Homo sapiens: one gene and its partners. The protein of the gene in region 2 interacts with the protein of the main gene of each other region in a pairwise test. Each region holds a gene or a part of one and is shown on either strand. Other genes may lie near its edges. The genes, in order: ITSN2, TRIO, BLMH and LIMS1.

The links.
Region 1: the proteins of TRIO (region 2) and ITSN2 interact in a two-hybrid assay, tested with the Homo sapiens proteins (one large-scale study listed by BioGRID).
Region 3: the proteins of TRIO (region 2) and BLMH interact in a two-hybrid assay, tested with the Homo sapiens proteins (one large-scale study listed by BioGRID and IntAct).
Region 4: the proteins of TRIO (region 2) and LIMS1 interact in a two-hybrid assay, tested with the Homo sapiens proteins (one large-scale study listed by BioGRID and IntAct).

The regions. Positions count from the first base shown.
Region 1 is NC_000002.12:24,202,496-24,210,536, reverse strand, and holds the end of ITSN2 (intersectin-2), read left to right. Parts: intron 1-503; coding exon 504-719; intron 720-1,315; coding exon 1,316-1,437; intron 1,438-2,217; coding exon 2,218-2,300; intron 2,301-4,261; coding exon of another isoform or gene 4,262-4,290; exon of another isoform or gene 4,291-4,293; intron 4,294-5,239; coding exon 5,240-5,323; intron 5,324-6,118; coding exon 6,119-6,292; intron 6,293-6,753; coding exon 6,754-6,911; 3' UTR 6,912-7,673; downstream 7,674-8,041.
Region 2 is NC_000005.10:14,142,215-14,146,141, forward strand, and holds the start of TRIO (triple functional domain protein), read left to right. Parts: upstream 1-1,127; 5' UTR 1,128-1,511; coding exon 1,512-1,668; exon of another isoform or gene 1,669-2,315; intron 2,316-2,591; exon of another isoform or gene 2,592-2,767; coding exon of another isoform or gene 2,768-2,807; intron 2,808-3,927. UniProt on the Homo sapiens protein: Guanine nucleotide exchange factor (GEF) for RHOA and RAC1 GTPases. Involved in coordinating actin remodeling, which is necessary for cell migration and growth. Plays a key role in the regulation of neurite outgrowth and lamellipodia formation.
Region 3 is NC_000017.11:30,271,445-30,279,485, forward strand, and holds part of BLMH (bleomycin hydrolase), read right to left. Parts: intron 2,754-8,041; coding exon 2,598-2,753; intron 1,456-2,597; coding exon 1,297-1,455; intron 1,185-1,296; coding exon 1,117-1,184; intron 1-1,116. UniProt on the Homo sapiens protein: The normal physiological role of BLM hydrolase is unknown, but it catalyzes the inactivation of the antitumor drug BLM (a glycopeptide) by hydrolyzing the carboxamide bond of its B-aminoalaninamide moiety thus protecting normal and malignant cells from BLM toxicity.
Region 4 is NC_000002.12:108,674,525-108,682,565, reverse strand, and holds part of LIMS1 (LIM and senescent cell antigen-like-containing domain protein 1), read right to left. Parts: intron 6,689-8,041; coding exon 6,538-6,688; intron 5,961-6,537; coding exon 5,868-5,960; intron 5,772-5,867; exon of another isoform or gene 5,636-5,771; intron 5,253-5,635; exon of another isoform or gene 5,075-5,252; intron 4,588-5,074; coding exon 4,539-4,587; intron 4,128-4,538; exon of another isoform or gene 3,965-4,127; intron 1,872-3,964; coding exon 1,796-1,871; intron 1,598-1,795; coding exon of another isoform or gene 1,450-1,597; exon of another isoform or gene 1,406-1,449; intron 1-1,405. UniProt on the Homo sapiens protein: Within the IPP (ILK-PINCH-PARVIN) complex, binds to F-actin, promoting F-actin bundling, a process required to generate force for actin cytoskeleton reorganization and subsequent dynamic cell adhesion events such as cell spreading and migration.

The DNA of each region.
Region 1 (8,041 bases), on a different chromosome or scaffold from region 2:
GGGTTGGAGCGATTCTCTGGCCTCCATCTCCCAAGTAGCTGGGACTACAGGCATCTGCTACGATGCCCAGCTAATTTTCGTATTTTTAGTAGAGCTGGGGTTTCACCATGTTGGCCAGGCTGGTCTTGAACTCCTGGCGTCAAGTGATCCTCCCGCCTCTGTCTCCCAACAGTGCTGGGATTGCAGGCATGAAGGGCATTCCTTCTTGGATTGTCATCTTCCTTTCTCCTAAGGAGAGAACACTGGGATTTTTTGTTTTGAGTTCTTTGAATTCAGCTGGTAGAATCAGTGTTCTGTGGCTAGAAGTAATGATTTTCACTGGGCCAGTTTGGACTCTGAAGAGTAATGTATTTAAGGATCTTTCATGCAAAGTGAATGATTCTAGCCACATTCCCACCTAGAAAACTCCACCACAGTATCCTCAGGCCCAGGGCACTGGCCTCTCAGGGGCACTGGATGGTTTGTGCCGGGATTTAAAAAGTGAAATTTTCTTTCTCTTTAAGCAACTTATTTTCAACTCTCTCACCAACTGCCTGGGGCCCCGGAAGCTCTTACACAGTGGGAAATTATACAAGACCAAGAGCAACAAGGAACTGCACGGATTCCTCTTCAATGACTTCCTGCTTCTTACCTACATGGTCAAGCAGTTTGCTGTTTCCTCTGGCTCTGAGAAACTTTTCAGCTCGAAGTCCAATGCTCAATTCAAAATGTATAAAACGGTGAGTATCACGCGTCTGGGGGTAGCATCAGGGGCCTAATGAGGTGTTGCCTCTATCTTAAGGCCTTCCTGGCAGACCCTGAGCTGGCCTTACGGGACCCTCCTCACCTGGTTCCAGATCGCTCGTGCTTCCTTTGCTGCTTCCCACGGGAAGGGCCCCATGCAGCTGGGCACTCCCCACCTGCCACAGGCCATCAGCCAGATTCCAGCTGAGATTCTGGCTTCCTCCTGGCCAGCGTGACACCTGGGCTCACCACTGTGTGCATTCAGCATTGGGTCTCTGTAAGCCGAGCCCCAGCACAGCACCAGCGTTGCTAGCAGAGAGCCTTTTGCACCAGCCGTCATGGGCGCTTGGAGCTCCTGTCCCCACCCAGTCCCAACACCTGACCCACCTCGATAATGACTTTTCCAGAAATGGAGGCTTCATTGTTCTTACAAATGGAGGTTTCATTTGTTCTGTGTAGAAGACCTTAGACGCTAGACCCCTTTCTCCTTCTCAACAAGGCTCTTCAGAACAAACAGAACTCTCTCTGGACATAGGCGGGTGGAGTGTTCTAGCCCATCTCACAGCCTGTGTTTTGGCCCTAATTCTTTCAGCCCATTTTCCTGAATGAAGTCTTGGTGAAACTGCCCACAGACCCTTCCAGCGATGAGCCTGTCTTCCACATTTCCCACATTGATCGGGTCTACACCCTCCGAACAGACAACATTAATGAGAGGTCAGTCCTGACCATGTGTGGCCTGCCTTGAACTCTGGGAGAAGGCCTGGACGTCTCCCTCTGCCATAAACCCATCTCCAGCCGTGCTTAAGCCCCACTAATTCTGTATCCTGAACCTCTCTTAACACATCCCCTCTGCTCCAGTCCCATGGTAGGCCTTGGTCACTGCAGCTGCCTCCTAACATGCTTCCCGGCTTCTAGTCTCTCCCCACACCACTCAGCAGCCTTCCCAAATGGCAGATCAGCACCTGAGGCCCTGCTACAGTCCCTGCAGGGGCTGCCCGCAGGCGACAGCCCACTGTGCTTTGCTGGTTTCCGAGGCCTCCTTGGGCCACAGGCCTCAGCCCTCGTCCCTCCACCTGCAGACTTTCGCCCCTCAGGCGCCCTTGTGTGGGTGCCATCCCCGCTGTTCCCAGCTTCCTTCAGGCTGCAGCTCCAACAGTGCCTCCGCGGCGCCAACCCGGGGGGTGCTGCTGCTCCTCTGTGTGCGCTAGAACCCCTCGTGACAGGTATCATCCGTGGGGCCAATGCATCATCTGTCTCCAGGTCCCAGCGCCTTGCGAGTGCCTGGCATTTTGTGGTCAGCCAAGAAGGGTCACTACCAGCTCTCATACTCCATTAGCATAAGCATCTTTCAGTTGACTAATATCAGGTCTTTGATAGGAAACTTGTGAAAGTTGAGGTTAGCAAAAGACTGAAGAACATGTGCAGAGCTCTGGGGCTCCACGCTGACCTGTGAGGGTGGGATGCGGCCAACGGCTGCCCCTGCTTCTCCCGTAGGACCGCCTGGGTGCAGAAGATCAAGGCGGCGTCTGAGCAGTACATCGACACCGAGAAGAAGAAGCGTGAGAAAGCTTACCAAGGTATCAGGGTGCCCGGAGGGTGGGACGCAGCCCCCAGGGGCCCTAGGAATGCCGGCCACTGCTCCTGCAGTCAGGCTGATGATATAGGGACGGGTCTGAAAGACCAGACCTGCTGCGGGATCAGACCAGAGAGCCCTCCCCTCTTGAAGCTACTACTGCAAACCTCCCTGGGGCTCCTGCCCACACAGACACGGGCTGGCAGTGCCAGCTCCGGGACCTCCCTCTCTGCACCACCTCTATCCCCCCCACTCCACTGCACCTTCTCCACTCCTTTCTCTCCATGACTCACCTCACCTCTGCTTGGGCTGTGGTGCTCCATTACATGCCACACCTGTGGTCTGTCTCCCTTCAGCTCCTGAGCAGCCACTGCTCCTCCTCACCCTCCTCTAGGGCCTGCCATCCACCCTCTCCCTTTGCAGCCAGGGGGCCTAGACCCTAAGTCTGCCCTCTCCCCATCCTTCTGCCCCTGCCTCCTCCCCCTTCTCACTTCACCAGACTTCAGTCCACGTCCTGTCCCCACCAGTGACACCAGTGGCCTAGTTAGTGGCTCAGCTCACTTTCCCTGCCCCAGCTCCCTGCACTGATGGCAGTCACTGAGGCGCTGCCTTCCCTCTGGACCCCATGGCCGCCTTCCCAGTTCTTCTTCCACCCTTGCCCAGGCCTCTCCCCGACCTCTGTAGCGCTCTCCCTCGGGGACCCCACCGACCCCCAGCTTCAGGGTCAGGCTAGCCACACTCTCCCAAGCCCGCGCCTCTGAACAGCACCCTCCAGAGAACCACCTGCCCCGCTGCTCCCACATCACACATCGGCTTTTCCCAAGGGACCACCAGCCTCCTTCCAGCAGCAGCTCCTCCTGGGACCCTCTGTGGACAGTAGTGTGGTCCCTGGCCACCCAGGCCCCTCCCTGGCACCTCACACCTGGTCAGCTGCACTGCAGTCCTCCTCCCTCGCCACTTTCCCATCGCCCTTTCCTGTCCCCGTATCACAGGCCCCCGATCTCCCACCCAGGCTGCAGCACAAGGCTCTCTTTCCTCTCTGCCACCCATCCTCTTCATTTCTGGAGTATTCTTTTTTCCAGAGCTGCTCTTATACCTCTTCCTGCTGAAGTATCTTCCCTATTGCCTCCCAAATTAACGACACATTTCTTACCCCACACTCAGGGCCCATCCCCACTACTACCTGCCACCCAGCCCCATCCCTAGCTCTTTCCTGTGCCCGGCCCATCCAGCTGCCTAGTTGAGCAGCCCATTGTTGCCCTGCCTGGCCTTCCCATGTGAGCTCCCCCTCCAGCTCAAGTGCTCTGCCCTCACCTTAAATTCTTCCCATCCTTCAAGGCCCACGTCAAACACAGCCTCCTCCATGACACCCTCTTGCCCTAACCAGTGTGACTTCTACCTGGACCCCCCGCTGTCCTGAGGCTGCGATCATCCTCCGGGCGCTCATCCTCTGTTGCCTCTGCTTGCGCCCTCTCAGTCCCTGCTTTTCTCACTTAATGGCCATAAGCTCCCTCAAGGCAACTCCCTCCCACATCGGGGCCAGCATGTGACTTATGCCAGTGGGGCTCCAGATTTGTTGCACCGGTGATGTCCTCTGTGTTCATGGCACAGATCACTCACCTGCTCAGTGGAGCCGCAATGGTCTTTGTAAAGCACCCCCCACCCCACCCTGCCCCACCGTGGCCTTCAGACCAGAGCTCCCACATTCTTCTCCAGCCTCCACATGAATGCCAGGCCCCAACCTCCCTGCTGCATCTCCAGCTGTGCCAGGCCAGCCTGTGGCCTCCACCCCACAGGGGGCCTGTGCTCTGAGCCAGCTGCATCTCCACCTTCCTCCCCGCCGGCCCCCTGCATCTCCACCTTCCTTCCCGCCGGGCCCCCCCATGCAGCCTGCCCTCCTGCCTGGGCCTCCCACCAGCTTCCTGGCTGCTATAGTTGCAGCTCTTTATGTGTTTTTTTATTCAGGTTTCCCCCATTTTGTTATATACTCCTAAAAGGTATGTTTAAAACAGCTTTTGCTAATTTAGTGTTATTTTAATGGTACTTTAAAAGCTTGCTGTTGAAAAATCAATGATTGATCATTTCATAACGCATATGATCTCTTAATTGGCCAAAGATGTCAATCCGGTTTTTCTGCCTGAGTTTTGCTTCCCATCAGCATCTGCATATGTTGCTGTGCATCGTCCGTGCGTTCAGTCCTTCCCACATTTGTCAATTACTTTGTGCCAGGCTCTGTGCTAGGCTTAACTGAGCCTGGACTTTGGTATCTGATGTTTAAATGTTGACCCTGCCATTTAGCAGCTCTGAGTGGATCACACTCCAGTCCTTTCTAAGCCTCAGTGTTTCTCATCAGTAAAATGGGGAGCTACATTATCAGGTAATTATGCAGTTTAAATAATATAATTTACATAAGTCTAGCACATGCCTAACACAAAGTAAGTATCCAGTAAATGTTAGCTGCTATTAAGTGCTGCACAAATACCATGTATTATTTTATTAATATTACTATTTGCTAGGCAATTGAGGGGTTAATATAAGGATGATCGAAACAGTCCATGCTCTACCCTGGCTCCTGTCTGGCAGAGGAGACAGACATTACACACGATTTCAGACCCAGCAGGCTGTGGGCTGCTCATAAGCGAGGGATACTGGATGCAGAGGAGGGAAGGGATCTGGGAGGTAGATGTGGGATCAGACCTGCATCTTGAAGGATGAGTAGGATGCTGACGGGCAGAGAAAGCAGGCAGGGCAGAAAGAGCAAGCAGGGGCTTCCTAGCAGGCAACACAGCCTGGGGAAAGGCACAGGGCAGCCAGATGCTGGGCTGTTGGGCCCAGGGCAGTGGCAGATGGGGACAGGGAGCCGGTAGTGTTATGGTTGGTTTGAAAGACAGGGTCTGCATCCTTGGAGAAGAGATTAATGAGACTTGTCTTCCTCTTTTGTAGCCCGCTCCCAAAAGACTTCAGGCATTGGGCGCCTGATGGTGCATGTCATTGAAGCTACAGAATTAAAAGCCTGCAAACCAAATGGTAAATACTGCCTTGATTCATTCAGCAGACATAACTGCCCTGCCCCAGTTTTTGCTGATGACTTTTTGAGACAGAGTCTCAGTGTATAACCTAGGCTGGAGTGCAGTGGCACGATCTTGGCTCACTGCAACCTCTGCCTCTGGGGTACAAGTGATTCTCAAGGCTTAGCCTCCTGAGTAGCTGGGATTACAGGTGTGCACCACCACGCCTGGCAAATTCTTGTATTTTTAGTAGACACAGGGTTTCACCATGTTGGCCAGGCTGGTCTCGAACTCCTGACCTCAAGTGATCTGCCCGCCTCGGCCTCCCAAAGTGCTGGGATTACAGCACTTTGTCACTGACAAAGTGCCACTGCGCCCAGCCACTGATGACTCTTCTGAACACTGAATAAAGGAATGCTTTCTAACAGTGTGTCCAGTGCCACTAAAATGCGCATATTGGACCAATATTCTTATCACTGTTTTCCCAGTAAGTGCCAGTGCCCGCCTTCCCGAGTGTGTCTGCGCCGAGGAAGCATGCAGCAGGTTGCAGTGACACTCACCCAGGATTGTTCCGTGCGGAGTGGTCCTGGCGGTGGAGCTCTCGGCCACTCCCCAGTTAATGCTGCTGTCAGCACTGGGAACTTGGAGACCCTGTTACTAGACCACAGGGATATGGTGCCCCAGGCAGCGGCTCCTGCTGCCATGGTCTCGAGTGACCCATTATTGGAATCCTGCTTCTGCTCAGGGAGGGCACTGTCAGTCGCTTCGTTTTACCTGCATGCACCACATGTGTCTGTGGTTTGTTTTTGTTCAGGAAAGAGCAACCCATACTGTGAAATCAGCATGGGCTCCCAGAGCTACACCACCAGGACCATCCAGGACACACTCAATCCCAAGTGGAATTTTAACTGCCAGTTCTTTATTAAGGATCTCTACCAAGACGTGCTGTGTCTCACCCTGTTTGACAGAGACCAGTTTTCACCAGATGGTAAGTGTCGCTCAGCCAGGGGATCTAAAGGCTTTCCCAGTTTCCTAGATCCTGGAGTCCAGATCTAGGGGCTTCAGCTGTGTGCAGACCCCATGCCACTTCAGGGAAGTGACACAGGCCTGTGTCATCTCGCTTTGGCAGCAGGTGGGTGGCCTTCCTCAGGGGAGGAGGTGGCCTGAGATGTGTTTCAGGTCTTTGACCCATCACTCCCTACACACACGACGTGAACACCACTCCTGGAGCATTCTCAGAATGGAGATTTGAATTCCATGTGGCAGCTTCTCACACACAAACCTGCCATCATTCCCCACACACCCACTCACGACATTCAACAGCCATGAGCCAAAAGAAGTTCCTTGTTTCAGATTTGAAGGTTTTATGAATCCACTTCTTCCGGATGTAGCTCTTTAATGATTTTATAAAGAAGAAAGACTTCTGACTCTCCTGTGTTTATTCACCAGATTTCCTGGGTCGTACTGAAATTCCAGTGGCAAAAATTCGAACAGAACAGGAAAGCAAAGGCCCTATGACCCGCCGACTGCTGCTGCATGAGGTCCCCACCGGGGAGGTCTGGGTCCGTTTTGACCTGCAGCTTTTTGAGCAAAAAACTCTCCTGTAGGGGTTCTAAAGGACAGCACCAGCGGGACAGCCCACAAGGCTGGGGCTGGAGAATGAGAGACTGCGCTCTCTTGGGGCTGAGGGAGCACCATGCAGCTTCACCCCTCACAAAGCCATGCACGCTGGGGGCTCTGTTTTCCTGCACACTAAATAGCTAGCAATCTATGCAAACACCTTTCCCATAAAGAAACCAAACCCCATAGTACAGTGCCTTGTCCTAGTGTTCACATGTTCAGCTCTGTTTGTTTAGATGCCAAGGTTTCCATTTTCAGGGCTATAAAAAGTATTACTTGGAAATGAGGCATCAGACCACCAGATGTTACCGCTCGGTTGAATGTGTCCACCGTGGAGTGGTTTGGTGACGCTGTAACCATTCCACGCCAGTGACCTCTGCTGGGTCACAGCCACTCAGGAGGGGAAGGGTCAGGATGAGAGGCTGCAGCCTCGACACTTGGCGCGGCCTGATACTGAAATAGCGTCTACTCGTGCACTGAATAAAAACAGAAACTTGATCATTTTATTCCTGATTAGATTTTATCACTCTCTGCTAAGACAATATAGTCTGGAGTATAAGTGGGAAAGCTTGATTTAAATACTGTGAACTCTAATAATGTGGAAAATATTTTTCAACTTTAATTTTCTGAAGTATAAATTATTTATGTAAATTCATTGTTTTTGCATATTTCTTAGGACATGCATCTTTAAGCTTTATCATTGCCCATATGTACAGAAAGAGAATAAAGACATATGTTTATGGATGGAACTTCGTCAAAGTCTGACTGATTTACTTTCTATATGAAAGCTGCTTTTTTTCTTTTTAATTTTCTCAGCCAGATGAAAGGCTCTTAAAAGGTACCTTCACAAGTTGCCTATAATGAAACCAAGTTTCCTTCCTGGTACGTGGGAAAACCAAGGACAGAGTGAGGATGAGGTCAGGAGACCCAGGGCCTCATCTTGACTCTGCCACTAATTTGCTCTGTGACTTTGGTGAATCTACCTCGTGTTTCTGGGGCTGGGTTTCTTTAATGGGTGAAATGGATGATCTCTGTGGGAGCTACTGACCCTCCTTCAGCTTGCCTCATCGAGTGATAACCTGAGGGTAACTTACAGCAAAGAAATGCACACAGGTCT
Region 2 (3,927 bases):
GCTGACAAAGCAAAGAGATACAAGTATGTGTACGACCCTTTATCTACAAATCTCTGTACAGACCCATTATATACATTATGAATATATAATATAGATGTAGACCCCAAACATGAGTCCATAACGATGTCTCCAACTCTAACCCTGTACCACAAGGATCACTCTAGCCTCTTCCTGGCTGTAACCTCCACTCCAGCAGTGAAGATTTGATGGCCACCATCCACCATTTACATTTGTCTATTTCCAGTATACTCGTGTGGTGGTTTCATCACCCAGTTGTTTTTCATCTCTCTTGCTTCTGCCTGTTTCCCCCGGCACTGGATCCTTTCACTCTCCTCGTAGCCGGGGCATAGGCGTTTTGAACTAGAATATTCGTCCAGCGCTGGTTTGACACGGATCTTCCGCAAAGGAACATTTCTTTTGGCCTCCCCAGACCCCGTCATCTTCCCCATTCATTCTGGCGGAGTAAGGACTGAGAAACCGTGAACCCGAGGTTCAGCAGCCGAAAGTCCCCTGGGAGATGGGGATACACCGAGAGGAATCCCATTTTACAGGAGAGCTTTGTACCCTTAGGAGTACCGTGGCCTCCGGGACTGGAGCAGATAACCTGTTTTCGGGCCCTCTATGTTCACTCAACAACTATTAAGAAGCCCCCTCCCCGAGCCAGGGCCAGCGCTGAGCCCACTAGGGAGGCACCCGCCCCGGCCCGCGTCACCCCGCCTTGCGGGCTAGACGACGAAACGCCTCGGCGCTCAGGGGACCGCGCACCGGTGCAGGAGCCAGCGCCCCGGTTGGGGGCGCAATGCCGGGCCTGGGAAGGTCCGCCCCGGCTGGTCAGAGCTTTCCTGCGCCTTCCAAGGCTTGGAGCTGCCCCGGGGAAGCAGACCGAACCAAACCGAACGTTCCTGCAGCCTCCCCGCCAGCCCTGCGGGAGCCCATCCGCCCAACGCGGCCCCGCCCCTCCCCCAGGCTCCGCCCACCGCCGAGCCCAGGCTCGGCCCTTGACGAAGTTCGCCGGAAATTACCGAAGCCCCTCTTTTTTTTCCTTCCTCTCCGTTCCCTGTTCTCCCTTTTCCTTTCACCCGGGTTCCCTCGGCCGTGATTTCCCCCTCCCCCCTCCTTCCTTCCCCATTGAAATCAAGATGGAGGCTCGCGGCAGCCGCCGGCGCCCGTGATCCCGGAGGTCTCGCCGGCCACGGGCCCCCGCCCTCGCGACTGCGCGTCCGGGAGGCGCGTGCTGCTGCCCGCGCTCCGGCCGGCGCCCGGGAGGCCGTGGCTCCGCGCCTCCGCCCCTCGGCCAGCTCGCGGCTACCGGGCGGAGTCCTCGTCTATGTGGGCGCGCTCCTTGGGCCGAGCCGCCGCCGCCGCCCCCCGCCGCCCCGGGGCTCTGCGTCCGCGCGCCGGGCGCGGGCAGCTGGGTGCTCGGCGCCGCCAGGCCCGGCGCGGAGCGGGCGGCACGCGGCGCTAGGGGCGCGGGGCCCGAGGCGGGCGCGGCCGCGGGCGCCGCCGCAGCCATGAGCGGCAGCAGCGGCGGAGCCGCCGCCCCCGCCGCGTCCTCCGGCCCCGCCGCGGCGGCCAGCGCGGCTGGCTCGGGCTGCGGGGGCGGTGCCGGCGAGGGGGCAGAGGAGGCGGCCAAGGACCTGGCCGACATCGCGGCCTTCTTCCGATCCGGTGAGTGCAACTGCGGCCGGCCCGCCCAGCGGCGCTGCCCCAAGCGCTCGGCCGACCCGCCGCGGAGCTGCCGAGCTCCGGCCACCGCGCGCTGGTGCCCGCCCGTCCGTCCGTCGGGGCCCGCAGGCTCTCGCCTGGGACCACTGCTTCCATGCGCCGGGGCTGCCCGCCCCACATCCGCGTGTCCCGCTGCCCGCGCAGCCGGGCGCGCGGCAGCTTGGCCCGAATGCCACCACCTCGCCCTCCCTGCGCCCGCCCCTCGTTTTAGGGCAGAATCCCCCGGTCTGCCGCTCCCGGCAGCCGCGGCTTCGCGGGTTGGGGCGCCGGCTCTTTGTCTCTTTCGCTGGAGGACCGAGGAGGCGGCGGCGGAGATGGCGTGGGCGGAGGCTCTTACCCCGGAGGCCGAGCGGACTGAGCCGGGGCCGGTCCGGGACGGGAAATTGGTCTTTGATCTGTGCCTGTCTCTGGCTGATTTGTACCTGGACCCTCCTCGACCCCATTAGCAGCCGGGTTTCTTTGCTTGGCCCTCTAGCCTGTCATCTCCCCGGCCTTGGTCTACACTTCTGTGAAACGGGGCAGTCACGGCACTCACTGCCCAGGGAGTGGGGACGGTGGCCGAGCTGAAGCTCGGAGGACCGGGAGGCGCGGTGAGCCATTGTCTCCGGGGACGACCCGGGAGGGTCAGCTGGGAACGTGGCCCCGGGGGGGCGGCGCGGGGCTGGGGCTCGCGGGGCACTGTGTGGGTGGCGTGGAGGTGGAGGCGGTGCCAGGTGGCCCCGAGTCCACCCCGGCGCAGAGGGGGTGGCCGCGGGAGAGGCGCGGGTGGCGACCGGTCCGCGGGAGGGGCACCGGGTTTGCTGCGCAGGGGGCGTGACAGGGCGTCCCCGGTACCCCAGCGGCGGCGCCTCCTCCCGCTCCGGCCCAGATCCCGCGCGAGCCGGGCCCGCGTCCCCGCGTCCCGCGTCCCCGCGCCCAGTCCGGTCTGCTCGCGCGTCGGCTGAGCAGCAGCAGGAGGAGGAGGAGGCGGCGGCGGCGGCGGCGGCCTCGGGGCCGGCACCCAGAGCGCAGTCCTTAGCGGGCCGGGCACGGGGCAGGGAGGATGCAGACTCCGGGTTGGAGAGCGGAGGAGGGCGGGCCAGGTCCGGGCCTGGAGAGGCGGGCGGGGGTGCTGGTGGCGGCCTCGGGGAGGACGGCCGGGCTGGGGACACCGACAGGCCGGGGGAGCGGCCCTGCGCTGGGGGACGCGCGGGAGGTCGGCGGTTCACGCTTTTCCGTGGCCTCTTTGAAAATCACCTCCCCAGATTCGGTGAGATCAGTTCCCCAATCCGGGTCACGAGGAGCAATTGCAGCGGGAGGGCGATGGTGAGAGGCAGAAGTTAGCAGTGCTGGTAGATACCTGGTTTAGTACTGTCTTCTCTTGGTTGTCTTGATCTTTGCTAGGCGGGGTTATTTTTGATTCATTTTAGCAGATTGGTTGTGGCTGGGAGTGACACAGCCGACTGTCCAGTGTTAGCTTGGGGTTAATCTACTCCCCAGTGCTCACTCTCCTTGAGAAGTGCCTGCAGAAAGCAAAGGTTTAGGAAAACATGAGCTCCTTCTAAAGAAAGCTACCCCCCCCCACCTTTTTTTTTTTGGTGCGACTGGCCAGATAGAGCAGCCCCGTCTTACCTCTTAATAGCAGAACTGGGACGTATTCCCTTCATGCCCTGAAGCTAAGTCTAGCTTTCTCTCTACCTACCTGTCACAGAATAATAGATTCTGTGCAGAATTCAGCTCCTCTCTGTTAGAAAGGCTCTTCTGCGTTGGAGATGGATTTTTTGGTGTTTGTGAGACCAGGCTTTTTTACATCTCTATTATGCATAGTACAAAAATCACTTCTGCTGCTGCTAAGAGCCCTCCCTAAAAGACACCGAAGATTTGCTGCCTGTTGGCGTGGCTCTCTCCAGGAGTTGTCGTCTGCTCTTGGCTTTGCTTAGGCCTGTGCTGCCCCCGCCGCCAGGGCTCCTGTTCATGTTCCGTTTGGGTCAGAACCAGGTAATGTCTCACTGGCTTGTTCCTTTCTTCTGCCCTCCAAAATGACAAACTTAACTTTTTAGTTGTTTCACTTAGAATCAGGAGCCAGGGCAGAACTTAAGTAGGTATCAGATGCAGCATCCCATTCCAGCGATAGCCTGGAACGTCTTTTTAAAAGTGAAATCTCCTTTGGGCAGCTCTGAGTCCCTGACCTAGATCTTGGCTCTAGCATCTAGGCCAACGATG
Region 3 (8,041 bases), on a different chromosome or scaffold from region 2:
TTTTGGTTGTAAAAGGAATTCAGAAGAAACTGAAGGGGCTCAACAGCTCCAAATAAATAAGGCTCTAGCTGTAGCTCTTCAGAAAGAATATGGAACATGCAGAACTTAGTCTCTCAGTGGGAGTCCATTCTCTATGTGTCACAAGAGTATGCAGGAAAAAAAGGAGATGATTAAACATAAATTCTCCACATCAGAAGCTGACAAGTTTACATTGTCATTTAGGCAAGAAAACTTTAAAAAATAATGAAAAAAGCGTTTGAAGTAACTTCTTAGAAAACTGATCTCTTTTGAGCTGGTGGAACCAACCAGTTTCTGAATTCATTTAAATCACTGCTGATTAAAATTTAAATAAATAATGTCCAAAATATTGGGGAATATTTTTGCATAAGCACTACACTCACATTGTTAAATACAAAGAAACAAAAGGCAAAATACATGTGAGAGAGGTCCTTGCATGTTCTAGTTAGTGTGAGAGACACACTTGGGAGTTGCATGTACCTGTTTTCAAAAATTTTTTAAACCTCATTAATTCTTTTTTTTAGCAGATTTCTCTATCAAGATATTTACTCAACTTCCTACAAGTAACAACTATTTATAAGTAACCCTAAAATAGAGAATGGTGAACAGTCAAGGAATCCTATATGATTTAGTTTACAAATTAACCTTCATTGTCATAAATGACCAGGAGGAATGCTATAAAGTATGCATGCAAATTAGTCCCACTTGTCACAATGACAAAATACAAAGTTACCAAAGTAACATAGCAAACGGGGGCTCTGGAAAATCTTTCATTACACTCCCAAATGCACTGAACACATTTCCGCAATAGTCAATTATTTTTTTAAAGTGTCTTTCTCATAGAGGATGGCTTTTTAGGAACGCCCAACGATTTCCACTCAGATAGAAAGTGGGATTTTGATGTCCTGGGTTAGAGTGTTTAAGTATGTGGAGTTTCTGCTATGAGTCCTCAAACTCTAAAGGATGCAAAGAAAGAGACGCGCCCTTAGGTCAACCTTCATCTTTGGATGAACCTCGGCAGAGTCATTTTGTACCAACAGCACACTCCAACAGCAACAACCCACAAATGACTTTCCATTTTAAATTTCCTGCACTCACAGATTCATGTCACTGAGGCCCAGCTTGCTATTGAAGTGTTTTCCAACATCACAGCCAAACCACACAGCCTAGAAACAGAAGAAAGAGGAAGAAAGTCAACATAAACCCCATCTTCCTATTATACCAAAGAAGTAAAAGATGTTTTAACCCCAATGTGCAAAATACAGAAACAATACCAACCTCTCCATCTTTGATGGAGGCAGCAACCATCTTTTTCAGGAAGTCAATGGGCTGGTTGTTGTATAGAGTTTTTCTCCCTCCAACCATATTGCTTAAGTATTCCACTGTGTAAAGTTTGTTGTACTTGTGCTGGGGCCTAGGGTCATTCACTAAACAAATCTATCAAGATCAAGAACACATTAATTAGGGCACAAAACCAGGAATGTCAAGCAACACACAGCTCTCCTCTAGGTTCATGTTTCCATCAAGCTCATCATCTCTGCCTACAAGCTAAGTACTACAGCCACATTGTTAAGTAACAAAGAAACACAAGGTGGCAAAATACATGTGAGAGAGGTCCTTGCTTATTCTAATTCGCGTAAGAGACACAATTAGGAGGTGCATCTACCTGTTTTTCCTACTAGCAAGAACTGCTCCAAAAGCAATTTTTTTTTTTTTTTTTTTGAGACAGAATCTCACTCTGTCGCCCAGGCTGGAGTGCAATGGCGCCATCTCGGCTCACTGCAACCTCCGCCTCCCAGGTTCAAGTGATTCTCCTGCTTCAGCCTCCCAAGTAGCTGGGATTACAGATGTGCGCCACCATGCCTGGCTAATTTTTGTATTTTTAGTAGAGACGGAGTTTCACCATGTTGGCCAGGCTGGTCTCGAACTCCCGAACTCAGGTGATCCACTCACCACAGCCTCCCAGTGTGCTGGGATTACAGGCATGAGCCACCGCACCCGGCCCTCAAAACTCATTCTGAAAAATAACATGCACTGAGTAAGAAAAATTGGAGAGCTAATCACAAGGCCCCTGTTCTCAAGTTACAAGACAGGCATCTGCTTGGAAGAGGATCAAGAAGCCAATAAAAGGAAGAGGCTCTGATCCTCCTACTAGGCAGATGAGGAAGACCTAAAGGGAACAGGAAAAACTAAGATTACTCCCTTCAACAGGAGAGTTCCCCGAGGGGACCTCAGTGCAAAAGTGCTCTGAATCCACGATAAGAAATACCCAACACACTTTCATTGTTTTGCACTTGAGAATGATTCTGGTCCTATACAGGGGCGCATGTGGGAATTAAAATGACTGCTGGCTTACAGTTTAAAAAGTCTCTGAAGAGGAACATTGTGGAAAAGCTGATAAATCCTGGCACCACCAACTTCATTAGCTGCATAAAATACTTCAGAGGAAGTGGGGAAAAATGTTTGTTTGCTGTCTAGTTTGATACTCATACATGCTAACCAAGAATCTTATACAATTCCCTGTGGTTAACAGCCATTTGAAAGTAAACAGCCAGTGACTACCAGTGCCATTCACCAACCTTATCTTCCATATTGAAGAGTGGCTTGACATGTTCCCTGTAAAACTCCAAGGGTGTTATGGGGCCAATTTTCTGATAATTTTTATCTTTGTCTCGATATTCCCAGGTGAATGTCTCTGGTGGATTACCCAAACAGATGCACACCACTCGGAATATCTGGAAGAGAGGAGGAGGAAAGGCGAGCAATGGTTAGGGGGAAATGTTATTTTTTTCACCTCTTCATTTTCCTTAAGCTTAGGAAACACAAGAAGTTAGTGGCTAAATTCAAGCTAAAAATTTCACAAGAAATCTAATACTGCGTCAAAAACTGGAAAGCCGATGTCTGAGATTTGTTATCAGTCAACTTATGAGTTCTCAAATAAACACTGTGAACAATGCGATTCTGAAATGTTAACATTTAGTGCTTAGTACTTGTCCTGAAAATTTAAACTTCCTTAGCCAAGAATCTGTCTACCATTGATACCCAGCAAGATCTGAGTTGCTGCTCTGATTATTTTTCAAGTAACCAAAAAATGACAAATTTTATAAATGGATTTCCTTCCCTTTATACATTGATGTTTTCCTTATTACAACAGGGGTCTCTAGTCATAGGAAAGTAACTAATTTTTCAGCTGGAGTTGGATGACAATGCCTGTTAAAAGTATTACTAGAAGAGGAGGGCCAGGTGCAGTGGTTCATGCCTGTAATCCCAGTACTTTGGGAAGCTGAGGTTGGAGGATCCCTTGAACCCAGGAGTTCAAGACCAGCCTGGATAACATAGTGAAACCTCATCTTAAAAAAGAAAAAAATTAGCTGGACGTGGTGGCTCATGCCTGTAGTCCCAGGTGCTCAAGAGGCTGAGGAGGGAGGATCGCTTGAGCCCAGGAGGCAGAAGCTTCAGTGAGCCATGATCGTGCCACTACACTCCAGCCTGGGTGACAGAGCAAGACCCTATCTCAAAAAATACAAAAATTAGGGGCACATGTTCTCAGGATCTCCTGAGGGCTGAGTCATGGTTTAAAAAAAAAAAAAAAAAAAGTACAAAAACTAGCCAGGCGTGGTGGCCTGTGCCTGTGGTCACAGCTACTCAGGAGGCTGAGGTGGGGTGACCACTTGAGCCCAGGAGGCAGAGGTTGCAGTGAGTTGAGATCACACCACTGCACTCCAGCCTGAGTGACAGAGTGAGGACCCTGTCTCAAAAATAAAAAGAAGAGGAGTGACTTTTAGTAATAAGGTATAATTTTTTGGGTTGTGAGACAACATATTTTCTAATGATGTCACAACACCTTCAAGTTAACATCATTACGATCCAAGGATATACTTTATATTATTTTCATTTTATAGAAATGCAAAAACAAGGCTGGGCACAGTGGCTCACGCCTGTAATCCCAGCACTTTGGGAGGCTGAGGCAGGTGGATCATGAGGTCAGGAGTTTGAGACCAGCCTGGCCAACATGGTGAAACCCTGTCTTTACTAAAGATACAAAAGAAAACAAAACAAAACAAAACAAAAAAACTAGCTGGGCATGGTGGTATGTACCTATAATCCCAGCTACTCGGGAGGCTGAGGCAGGAGAATCCCTTGAACCCAGGAGGCAGAGGTTGCAGTGAGCCGAGATCATGCCATTGCACTCTGGCCTGGGGGACAGGGCGAGACTCCATCTCAAAAAAAAAAAGAAAGCAATGCAAAAATAGAAAAAGAGATACACCCTGCACAAGGACAGAATAAAGAAAGTATTTTATCTTCTATATCAAATGTCCTTGTCTTTTTAAAAACATAACACTATGATCTGCCTGTCCCTTTTGCACCCACAGTCACCACCCTGATCCAATCATCTATTACCTGCATTATTTATACTACACATTTCTATCCGCTATCACATTCAACAGAAACAGATTTTATATTTACCAAGTGTGCCTATATTGTGCTAGATACTATGTATTTGCTAGGTCCACGTAATTCTCATAATACCCTCTCAAGGTATATTTCCCTCCACTTCCCCTTCACCTTTTTTTTTTAAATCAGAGATTGAGACACAAAGAAACCAAGTAATTTACTTAAGGTCACACAGCCAGCAAGTGGAAAACCACAATCTAAACTGAGGTCACATGCTGTCAAAAACAACAACAACAACAAAATATTGCTCCTTGGCTACAGGATTTAAAAAGGGAAGATGTACTGACCGTCTACTTTGCTGTACTATCTTTCACTACCATATTTCTTAAGCCTCTCAACAAAGATGGTGGATATTATCCCCCTTTTACAGATAAGGATATCAAGGTTCAGGGAAATAAATCACTTTCCTGAAGTCATAGAGCCAGTAAATGGCAGAATTAGGATTTGAACTTAGGGCTGACTTTAATATGTTGTTTCCAAAACTCCATCTATTTACCATTTACTGTAACTTTCTAGATTTCATATAACTTGTCTCCCATAAAAGATTATACACTTCTTAAAGATAAGAACCAGATCATGGATATTTTGTGTCCTTTATAGCATCTAGCAGTGCTGGCGACATGACACAGATACACCAGTTGATCTGAACATTGTTCCATTCTCCATATCACCACAGGAGAATTTGAAAAGCACTACTTTTCTCAACTCACGTCCCTGTTGAAGATCCAATGTTTCCCTATTACCTCCCATAACAAATCCAAACTCCGTGACCTAATTCCTTTTTCTTACTTTTTAACTTAGGCAAAACATATGTTTAGTGTGTAAAACACACTAACAATTCGTTTTTTAAAAACATACATATATACCCATGTAACCATCATTCATATCAATATACATAACATTTCCAGGCTCTGGAGGTTCTCTGGCTCCTTTGCTGTTAAGTAACCCACAACTTCCACCAGATAACCACTGTTTTTACTTTATAACCATTGATTAGTTTTGCCTGTCCTTTAACTTCGTATAAAAGTATTCATAGAACACATTATCTTTTGTGTCTGGCTTCCTTTGGCTGACATAATGTCTGTGAGATTCACACACATTGCTGTGTATATGAGCAATTTGTTCACTGCTGTGATTCTATCTTAACAGAAGCAAGTTAACTTAGAGAAGAAGTTATGCTTGCCTGTCATTTTGTTTTGTTCTGTTTTCCAAGAGAGAACCTTCCTTTATTAAGATTTACTGTGTGTGTTACGAGCCTGAACATCTAGTCATTAAACCATCTCTCTTTTAACGTTATATCCTTCCCAAGTTGGTTTCTACCACAGAAAGGAGGCAGAGTATCACATAAGCAACCGTAATTGAGTTACTCTAGCCAAGGATTAATGAGCTCTGTTTGGGATTCACATTCATTTTGTATTTACTCAGTGCCAAGGCTACAAATGACAACTTTAGGCATCTGTCATTATGAAGAAGACATTGCCACTGGTAACTATGGTCAAGTCAATGACAATGAAGGTGTACAGTCAGAACATACTTAGATTAGAAAGGTTTTAAAGACCTAAATGATGTGTATTTTCAACTAGTAACTACTGTTACATGTGTATCTACATGTAGTAGTGGAACCATTTCAATCAATTCTCAGTTATCCAACGGTGGTAAATTCAGCTCAGCCAGGCCCTGGCCAAAAAAGGAGAGGCAATGCCAGGCCCAACTAAGATGAAGATAACTAAGTGAATTTCTGGTTACTTTTAAACATATTCTAAAGATAAATACAAATGTTTTACACTATAATTTGCAAAATACCTTATTATGTACTTGACTCCCTGTTTAAAGTAAAAAGTGTTAAATTCCTCCTTCTCCCAAATACATTAGAGGAAATATGCATTTCTGCTATCTAAATGAATTCTATAGTGAGTCCTTTTATAAAACAATGCTTATGCCCTTCACATATATTTTATAAATCTGAATTTTAATAAAAATATAATTAAGGCATAAATAAGGATAAGGGTGATATTTCTTTTAGATTCTAGTAAAACTTTGTAACTTGAGACATGTTGCATTGTTTTATACTATTTGTTTACCATGACTATAAATTATCCAAAGTCATTAATATTTAAGTCAGTCTGTAACACTTTGGAAGGAATATCTGACTCTGAGCCAAATAACAATAGTTAATTAAATAAGCTCTCATTAAAAAAAAATGCTCCAAAGAATAATTTCCATGGTCTCTGATACTATATTTTCTTGATAAGAGACTCTGCAGTTCTGAAATAACATTCCCTGGGCAGTGAGCTTTAGATATCCAACTCTGCTCTCTGGTGGGCAACACTGGAGTGTCACCTGCTTCTCACAAGATCTACTTGGCATCCAGGACAAAAAGATACTGAACAGTGAACACAAGAGATTATACAGAATTGAGTAAAATAAGAGTACAACCATATCCCTCAGAATATAATTACACATTAAATTAATATTAAAACCAACAATTAGCCCATTTAGGGAAATGTATTTGTGACTTTAATTGAAATTGCTCACTTCCCATCCCAGTACTTCACATCTTTTTTCCTTTACTTTTCTCCATTGCACTTATCTTCTGGCATATTATACTTCTTATACACTTTGTCTTTCCCTACTAGAACATCAACTACACAAAGATAGGTATTCTTTTCTGTGTTGTTCACTGTTTAATCTCCAATGCCTAGAATAGTGTCAGATACATATGTTAAGAAATATTTAACGAACACGTGACTTTTTTTGTGGGGGGGAGCGGGGGACAGAGCCTCACTCTGTCACCCAGGCTGGAATGCGGTGGCACGATCTCGGCTCGCTGCAACCTCTGCCTCCCAGGTTCAAGCATTTCTCATGCCTCAGCCTCCCAAGTAGCAGTGATTACAGGCATGCACCACCATGCCTGGCTAATTTTTTGTATTTTCGGTAGAGACAGGGTTTTGCCATGTTGGCCAGGCTGGTCTTGAACTCCGGGCCTCAAGTGATCTGCCTGCCTCCCAGAGTGCTGGGATTATAGGCGTAAGCCGCCACACCCAGCCCCACATCTAGCCCCAAGCACTTTTGTCATTTCAAACCAAATTTAGAACCAATCTGATAAAGGGGGTGGACTTGGAATATGGGCTTTCCAAAATGCTGGAAAGCTGAAGGCAAAGATATACACGGCTCAATGACACCTGGCAACTGATTCTGCTTTTCCTCAACTCCTCAAACGAATAATGATGTGATCCTATTAATTCTAAATCTGGTTTAAAAAGAACAGAAGAAGCCAATGATTCTAATTATTCCCTTAAATATAGATTACTGAGAAAGGTCCCCTAAAATTGTGATATGAGTCCCAGAGTATAAAGGGCAGCCTGCCCAAAATTGAGCTAAATTTTTTGATTGATGGAGACCCTTTGCTTGTCCCCTGGGGGCAGTTGTATGTCAAGGGAAGCTACACTGAGTGCATCTGTACTTGCCTCTTGGGGCCATTTGTCTTCTGATTAAGATTTTATATCTTTAGCTAATTAAATAGAGAATTTAAACTAACCTAAAACAATGTGGATTATATATAGTCCCT
Region 4 (8,041 bases), on a different chromosome or scaffold from region 2:
TCCTGTTTTCAGACAGACTACCTTAGCAAGCTTTCCAGTTTTAATCTTTTTTATTTTTTATTTTTTGAGACAGAGTCTCACTCTGTCGCCCAGGGTGGAATGCAGTGGCACGATCTCGGCTCACTGCAACCTCCGCCTCTCAGGTTCAAGCGATTCTCCTGTCTCAGCCTCGCGAGTATCTGGGATTACAGGCACCCGCCACCATGCCTGGCTAATTTTTTTGTATTTTTAGTAGAGACGGGGCTTCACCATGTTGCCCAGGCTGATCTCAAGTGATCTGCTGCCTTGGCATCTCAAAGTGCTGGGATCACAGGCGTGAGCCACCATGCCCGGCCTCATTGTTTTAATCTTACATTTACATTTAATTCCTCTTTATAGAAGGAAACATGTAAACTGGAACAAAATATTTTTAGAGCTCCAAACACAATGGTAACTATGAGGGAAAACTGGAACAATCATGCTGGTAATTCAAAAGAATTTCAAAGATTGAAATACTTCTCATAAAAATCAGGAATAAAAAAAGAGTTTGAAGACATTGAGGAAATGAATTCATAAACAGTAGCATATGGGTATTGTATGAATGCACATTCGAACATCACAGAAGAAGATGTCTTACGTAAATCAGATGGACTTTGCTTAGATACGAAACATGCTGAAAGATTTTTTTTTTTTTTTGAGACAGAGTCTCACTCTGTCGCCCAAGCTGGAGTGCAGTGGCAGTCATGGCTCACTGCAGCAGCCTCAGCCTCCTGAGTAGCTGGGACTATAGGTATGGGCCACCACGCCTGGCTAATTTGTTTTTTTTTTTTGACGGATGGGGTCTAGGCATGTAGTCCAGGCTGGTCTCAAAATCCTGGGCTCAGGCAATCCTTCCACTCTGCCTTCCTAAAGTGCTGGGATTACAGGCGTGAGCCACCATGCCTCGCCATGCTGAAATAATTTAATACATAACTTAGAATATATGCATTTTTAAAAATATCAAACAACACTTATAATTTATCAATTAAATGATCGTGGCAAGGAAACCAAAAACCAGGATTTTAAAAGCTACAGTTAATCAGACAAAAATCCTTTAAAATGTTTTCCAGGGTCTATTAAGAGATTAGAATTCTTCCCTTTAAATCCATTAAAAAAAAAAGAAAGAAATGTATACTATATGGTGTTTAAAAAATGAGGTGAGTGAGTCTACAGAGTAAGTGAAATACATGACCACAAAACTGTATTAAGTATGGAGTGTATTCATTTAATTTTTGTAATTTTAGCAGTTATGCAAAAGGACCAGTTCTACATAGGACAAATACTTGTATTTCAATCTCTGATGACTACAAATACATGCCCAAAAGTTGCAGGGGGGGAAGAAAGCAAAAGACAGAAACAGAACAAAAACATATTCCAAAGGACTAACCAAAGGAGAAAGCAGTGAAAATGATGACACAGGGATAGAAAAGTTTACAAACAGACTGGCTTTTTCTTTTTCTGCTTGTCCTTATCCTTTGCTTCTCTCTCCCGTTTGGCAAGTCGCCTCTTAAATTCTTCTGGCATTTTCTCATAACAGTGTTTGCAGACTGGCTTTAGGTCAATTTCAACAAACTTATCCCTTTGAGTAGGACAAAGAAGGAATAGAAGAAAGAACAGGGAACAGTTAAAGGAAGAACCTTTACTTTCAGAAGGCCTGAACAGAAAGAGGAAATAAGAAATCAAATAATTCTCTTTTTCTAAATTCTAGGATTTTTTTTAAGTGTCTCCCCAAAGTTTTCAGTCTTAGGATTCACACTGGACAAAACCGTACACTTACTTGAGTGTTAATTTAGTGTTGCAGGTAGAACAGGCAAAGCAGTTCACGCACCAGGCCTTATTAAGAGCAGAGACCACTGGAGAAAGAGGAAAGAGATCTGGTCACATGGAAATACATCAGTATGGGGAGCAGGGCAGCTTAGAATTTCAACTCCAAAACAGAACTACGACTGTGTCTGTGGCACTTGGTGGAGGTTCTCAAGAACCTTTTTTTTTTTTTTTTTTTTTTTTAAATGAGACAGGGTCTTGCTCTATAGCCCAGGCTGGAGTACAGTGGCACAATCTTGGCTCACTGTAACCCCAACCTCCCAGGCTCAAGTGATCCTCCCACCTCAGCCTCCTGAGTAGCTGGGACTACAGGTGCATGCCACTACACCTGGCTAATTTTTTTTTTTTTTTTTTTTTTGAGACGGAATCTCGCTCTGTTGCCAGGCTGGAGTGCAGTGGCGCAATCACGGCTCACTGCAACCTCCGCCTCCTGGGTTCAAGCGATTCTCCTGCCTCATTTTCCCAAGTAGCTGGGACTACAGGTGCGTGCCACCATGCCCAGCTAATTTTTGTATTTAATAGAGACGGGATTTCACCATGTTGGCCAAGATGGTCTCAATCTCTTGACCTTGTGATCCGCCCGTCTTGGCCTCCCAGAGTGCTGGGATTACAAGCGTGAGCCACTGCGCCCGGCCTATACCTGTCTAATTTTTGTATTTTTTATAGAGACACGGTCTTGCCATGTTTCCCAGGACGGTCTTGAACTCCTGGGCTCAAGCAATCTACCTGCCTCGGTCTCCCAAAATGCTGAGATTATAGGCATGAGCCACCATGCCCAGCCAAGAACCTCTTTCCTGAGAGCTTCTTTTCTTTTGTTTTTCAGACAGGGTCTCGCTCTGTTGTCCAGGCTGTATTGCAGTGGTGCGATCACAGCTCGAACTCCTGGGCTCAAGCAATCTTCTCCTCTCGTTCTCCTGTGTAGCTGGGACCATAGGTGTGTGCTACCACACCTGGCTAATTTTTTATTTTGTAGAGATGGAGGTCTTGCTCTGTTGCCCAGGCTGGTATCGAACTCCTGGCCTCAAGAAATTCTCCTGTCTCGGCCTCCTTAAGTGCTGGGATTACAGGTATAAGCCACCACACCCGGCCCTCAACCTTTATGTATACAGTTGTTGCTCAGTATGTGCAGGATACTGTTTCTAGGATGCTGTGAGGATACCAAAATCTCAGACGCTCAAGTCCCTGATATAAAATGCATATAACCTATGTACATTGTCTTGTATACATTTATTTATTTTTTTTGAGACGAAGTTTTTGCTCTTGTTGCCCAGGCTGGAGTGCAATGGTGTGATCTTGGCTCACAGCAACCTCTGCCTCCCGGGTTCAGGTGATTCTCCTGTCTCAGCCTCCCGAGTAGCTGGGATCATAGGCATGCACCACCACACCCAGCTAAGTTTTTGTATTTTTAGTAGAGATGGGGTTTCACCATGTTGGCCAGACTGCTCTTGAACTCTTGACCTCAGTTGATCTGCCCGCCTTGGCCTCCCAAAGTGTTGGGATCACAGGCGTGAGCCACTGAGCCTGGTCCTATCTCGTATACTTTAGATCATCTCTAGGTTAATTATAATGCCTAGTACAATGTAAATGATATGTAAATAGTCATTATACTGTACTATTTGTACTGTTATATTGTTATTTTTCTCTAAATATTTTTGATCCATAGTTGGTTGAATCCACGGATGTTTGGATCCAGCCCCTGGATACGGAGGGCTGACTTTAATCTTCCCCCATCCTTAAGTATCCTGTGAAGTTATAAATGATGTGTGCCATGTCTTACACCAGCAACTGTGCCCCCTTGGCCTGGGCACATGTGGCAACTGTCCATGCACCATGTTGTTTAGGTGAGCTTGCTGTTTCTGTCCCTACTGCTGTTGGCCCAACATGGAAATATGAACTAGGTAAATAATTTTCAAAAATCCAGACATTAACTTATTTGCCCCTGTAGGAGTCTTTTTTCCAGAGCTGATGATAAGAAGACAGTTTCCTTTGCAGCTTCTTTCACCTGGCATCTATTTCACAGAGGAGGGAGGTAAGTTTTATTTTCAATGGCACTAAAGATTGTTTTCCTGGATTGTTTTCACAAACTGCACATGAACAGTGTTTCAAAAGTATTTCCTGAATTAGGTGATGTCTGCAGGGAGCCATGAATCATGCTGAAAACAGGATTGTTCAAAACTTTGCCAGGAAGTCTCTGGCAGAAGTGTGTTAGCGAGTCTTAGCAAACACAGCTGCTTCCTTTCTGTTCCAATCAATCAGCCCAGCCTAATTACCACAGTACAAGGGTGGTAAGTCCTAGATATGCTTGCTGATAACTGCCAGCTTTTAGCATGTGCAGGTTAAAGTGCCTCTTCCTAACTACGATAGCAGATTAAACTGTTCCTAATAAACGTTGTTCTAGAGCTTCCTGAAACTGGACACAAACAGGTCTTAGGGTCCACCAGGGACAGTTCCCATGATTGCTGGCATACAACACTGCAGCAGTGGCCGAAAGTAGTGTCATAAATCAGTAACAAATCCAACTCTTTGATATTATCATCTTACTGCTACAGATTACTTGGAAAATACGCCAAAGATAGAGAAAAAGTAACTGATAACGATCACATTTCAAACCATACAATCACCAACCTGAATTTCCACATTACCCAAGTGTTTTTGTGTCAAAGTGGCACCAATCTAAAACTCACACAGATACTTACCATCACCTTCTATAACACGATTGCAGTGGAAGCAAACATCACCAAATAGCTGAAAATAAAAAAAGGTGGTCAAAGTTCAAGATGTGTTAGAATTTTTAGAACACTGAACATTTAAAAATAGCTGGCTATCTAAATTGAGGATTTATCACTACTAGAGAAATTTAGTAAAAGTTCTTTGACAAGTTTTTACTTCTTACAATGAAAGTAATTCACTCTCATCAATTAAAAGAAAAACTTTCCAGATGACAGTTTGAACACCCAAATAAGTGATGCAAAATATAGAAATCTGTGAGTCCATATGGATAAGAAATAGATAAATGAATAAACCTATAGACGGGAGAGGAGGTGGGTTCTTGCTCAGGCAGAGCGCTGAGGACCAGACTATGGGTGGAGGGCATGGGGCTGGAGAAGTGTCGTTTGCAGCTGGCGCAGAGACAAGAATCATCAAGGGGTGCTGAATCTAGGGCAGGTTGATGAGGAACAGGACATTTCCATGGTCATAAAATGATTGCCCACAGATTGCTTCTTTCTTACAGAGGAGGGAAGGAAATTGTAATTCACAGTGATGTTATCAGCCAGCACCATGCCTGGGAGATCACCAGGGCAGGAGAGGTATAAAATGCTCCAGGGGCAAGGTTCTGAGAAGATGCCCTGCCACTGTATGAGGCCACAACCTGCTGTGTATAACCTCATCTAAGCACAGAGAAGCACCAGGTGAACCCAAGTGGAAAGTAGTCTATTAAAAAGGGGTTAGGGGCCCTCTGCATCCCTCCAAAATGTCAATGTCATCAAAAATTTTAAAAGACTCTGGAAACGTTCCAGATTTAAGAAGGCTAAAGAAACATCACAGCCAGAGGCTGGGTCCAGTCTGGGAGTGGAAAAAATGCTGTGAGGATATTGACTCAAGTGACAAAACTGGAATAAATGGTTAGAGTACGGTATCAATATTGATAACTACAATTATGTTAGAGAGTCCCATATTCTTGGGAAATATACACTGAAGTATTTAGGGATAAAGGAGTATGATGAACTTATTGGCAAAACAGCCATCGTACTTGTATATAATATTTACGTAACTATGTGTTTTACACAGGAAGACTGAGCTTGGGAAATGATAAAGCAAACTGTGGACTTGAATGAAAGACATACAGGTATTCTTTGTATATTTTATAGTTAGCTTCTGAGTCTGAAATTATTTCCCAAATAAAAAGTTAAAAACAAATCTCTACTGAACAATGTACATCTTCCAAGAGATTTCCTTGTAGCTAAACTACTGATAAGCTTAGGTTCATAAAAGTCTATCTAGCATCCAGTGACTAAGGTCAATACCTGGTTATAGTGAGTTTCACAATATGCCAGGCCTTTCCTCTCATAATGGCGATGTCCAAGAAAGGGTTTCTCACACTTGGCACAAACAAAATGCTGAAAAAAAATTGCTATAGGTCATTTTTGAATTGCCATATTTTATATCTAATAAAGTAAATACCAGAGTTAACCTATTTTCAGAGAAGATGAAGGAAAGTTTGAGACAGTCATTTCATTTGGCCATAGGTGGCCCCATAATATAATACTTCTGCAGTTGTAATTCAGGTGTCTGTCTTTGAAGGTTACTTTAAGACATAGCCTATTATAATAGCCCAAAAAGAGAATAGAGGTGAGCATCTCAGTAGCACCTATAAAGGAGGAGCTGCTGCTGGATACAGACCATGGCACTTCCTGCTTCAAGAAGGCTTTAGGAGCAAAAGTACACATCCTGTATCATTACTGAGACATTCACAAAAGCAGTGTACATTATATATTCTTAGCTGTCAGCAAAGTCAATTGTCTTTAAAATGTCCACGTTTAATCTTTAGAGTCTCCTAATCTTGCCAGGACACCTGAATCATGAAGATTTGAAAGTACTGGTTACCCCTGAATCATGGGAGATCTGAAAGTATTGGTTACCCCTTAATCATGGAGATTTGAAAGGATTGGTTACCCTTTGCCATTTAGAACTCACCTCCACATGCCACTGCTTGCCCATAGCGTTCACCACGCGCCCTTCGATGGGCCGTCGGCAAGCACCACAGATGGGGACCCCCATTTTATCATGGCATGGGAGGCAGTATAGCTCCCCTTTCAGCTCCCGTGCATCGGCAGTCAGCTCCTTCCTGTCCGTGAGAAAGACACACAGCTTAATACTAAGAGAGAAAAGTGGCCAACCAATGGGGCTAGCACACTTTTTAGAAGGTTTTTAAAGACATTACTATGACAATCCCTGCAAATTTCTTTTTTCCCCTTTAGAGGTGATCAGAATAACCTGAATTAATAGGCCTGAACAGGTTTCAGACTCCTACCAAAACATCTGTATCTTAAAAGGATAAGATGCAAGACTAGGTCAGATACATACCACCACACCAGTCATATTCATAATTTCCTTCTTATATTATCACATTACATTTTAGTCCATTTGTCTTCCTCTAAAAGCTACAGGGAATAATCACAGTGCTGAGGGTAGACTCAGTAATACTATCTGCTATGGTGTGACTGTGTCCCCAAAGTTCATGATCCCCAATTCTGAGGTGTTGAGAGGTAGGACCTCTAAGGGGTGATTACATCATGAAGGCTCTGCCCTCACAGATGGATTAACGCTGTTACTGAGGGGGTGGGTTCCTTATAAAAGGACGAGTTCAGCCTCCTTCCTTCTCTTCCTTCCCCCCTCCTCTTCCCCCACCATGTGATGCCCTCTGCTATGTAATGATGCAGAAGAAGGTCCTCACCAGATGCCAGCCCCTTGATCTTGGACTTCCCAGCCTCCAGAACCATGAGCCAAATAAACTTCTGTTGGTTACAAATTACCCAGTTTGTGGTATTCTGTTACAGGCGCATAAAATAGACTAACACACGACCTTTCCAAGCAAACTGAGAAGTTGGGAGACTAGTTCCATTTACTAACAATTATTTAAATTGTCACAAGCTGTTGAAAATAGTTATAGGTTAATAGGTTTATTTTCATAAACAACAAAATGCCCAGAATTTTCCTTCTCCAAATACTCAAATTAAATATTATTTTCAGTCTCCTGCATCAATAAACATTTGGTCAGAGATGGTCCCAATTAGTCAAACGGACTTGTTTGAATTTCATCCCTTTTATGTAATTCTCTAGGAGAGATGCTAATGAAAAGTGGACAGAGGTGAATCCCCAAGAGGAAGGACAGGCAAGAAAACGAGATAAGGCACAAACTGATAATTCAATCACAAAAGATGAGATGGCTGAACTTATACAACCAAACTGTTTTCTTTCTTTCTCTTTTTTTTTTTTTTTTTTTGAGACGAGTCTTGCTTTGCTGCCCAGGCTGGAGTGCAGTGGCGCGATCCACACTCACTGCAAGCTCCACCTCCCAGGTTCATGCCATTCTCCTGCCTCAGCCTCCCGAGTAGCTGGGACTACAGGCACCCACCACCACGCCTGGCTAATTTTTTTATTCTTAGTAGAGATGGGGTTTCACCATGTTAGCCAGGAT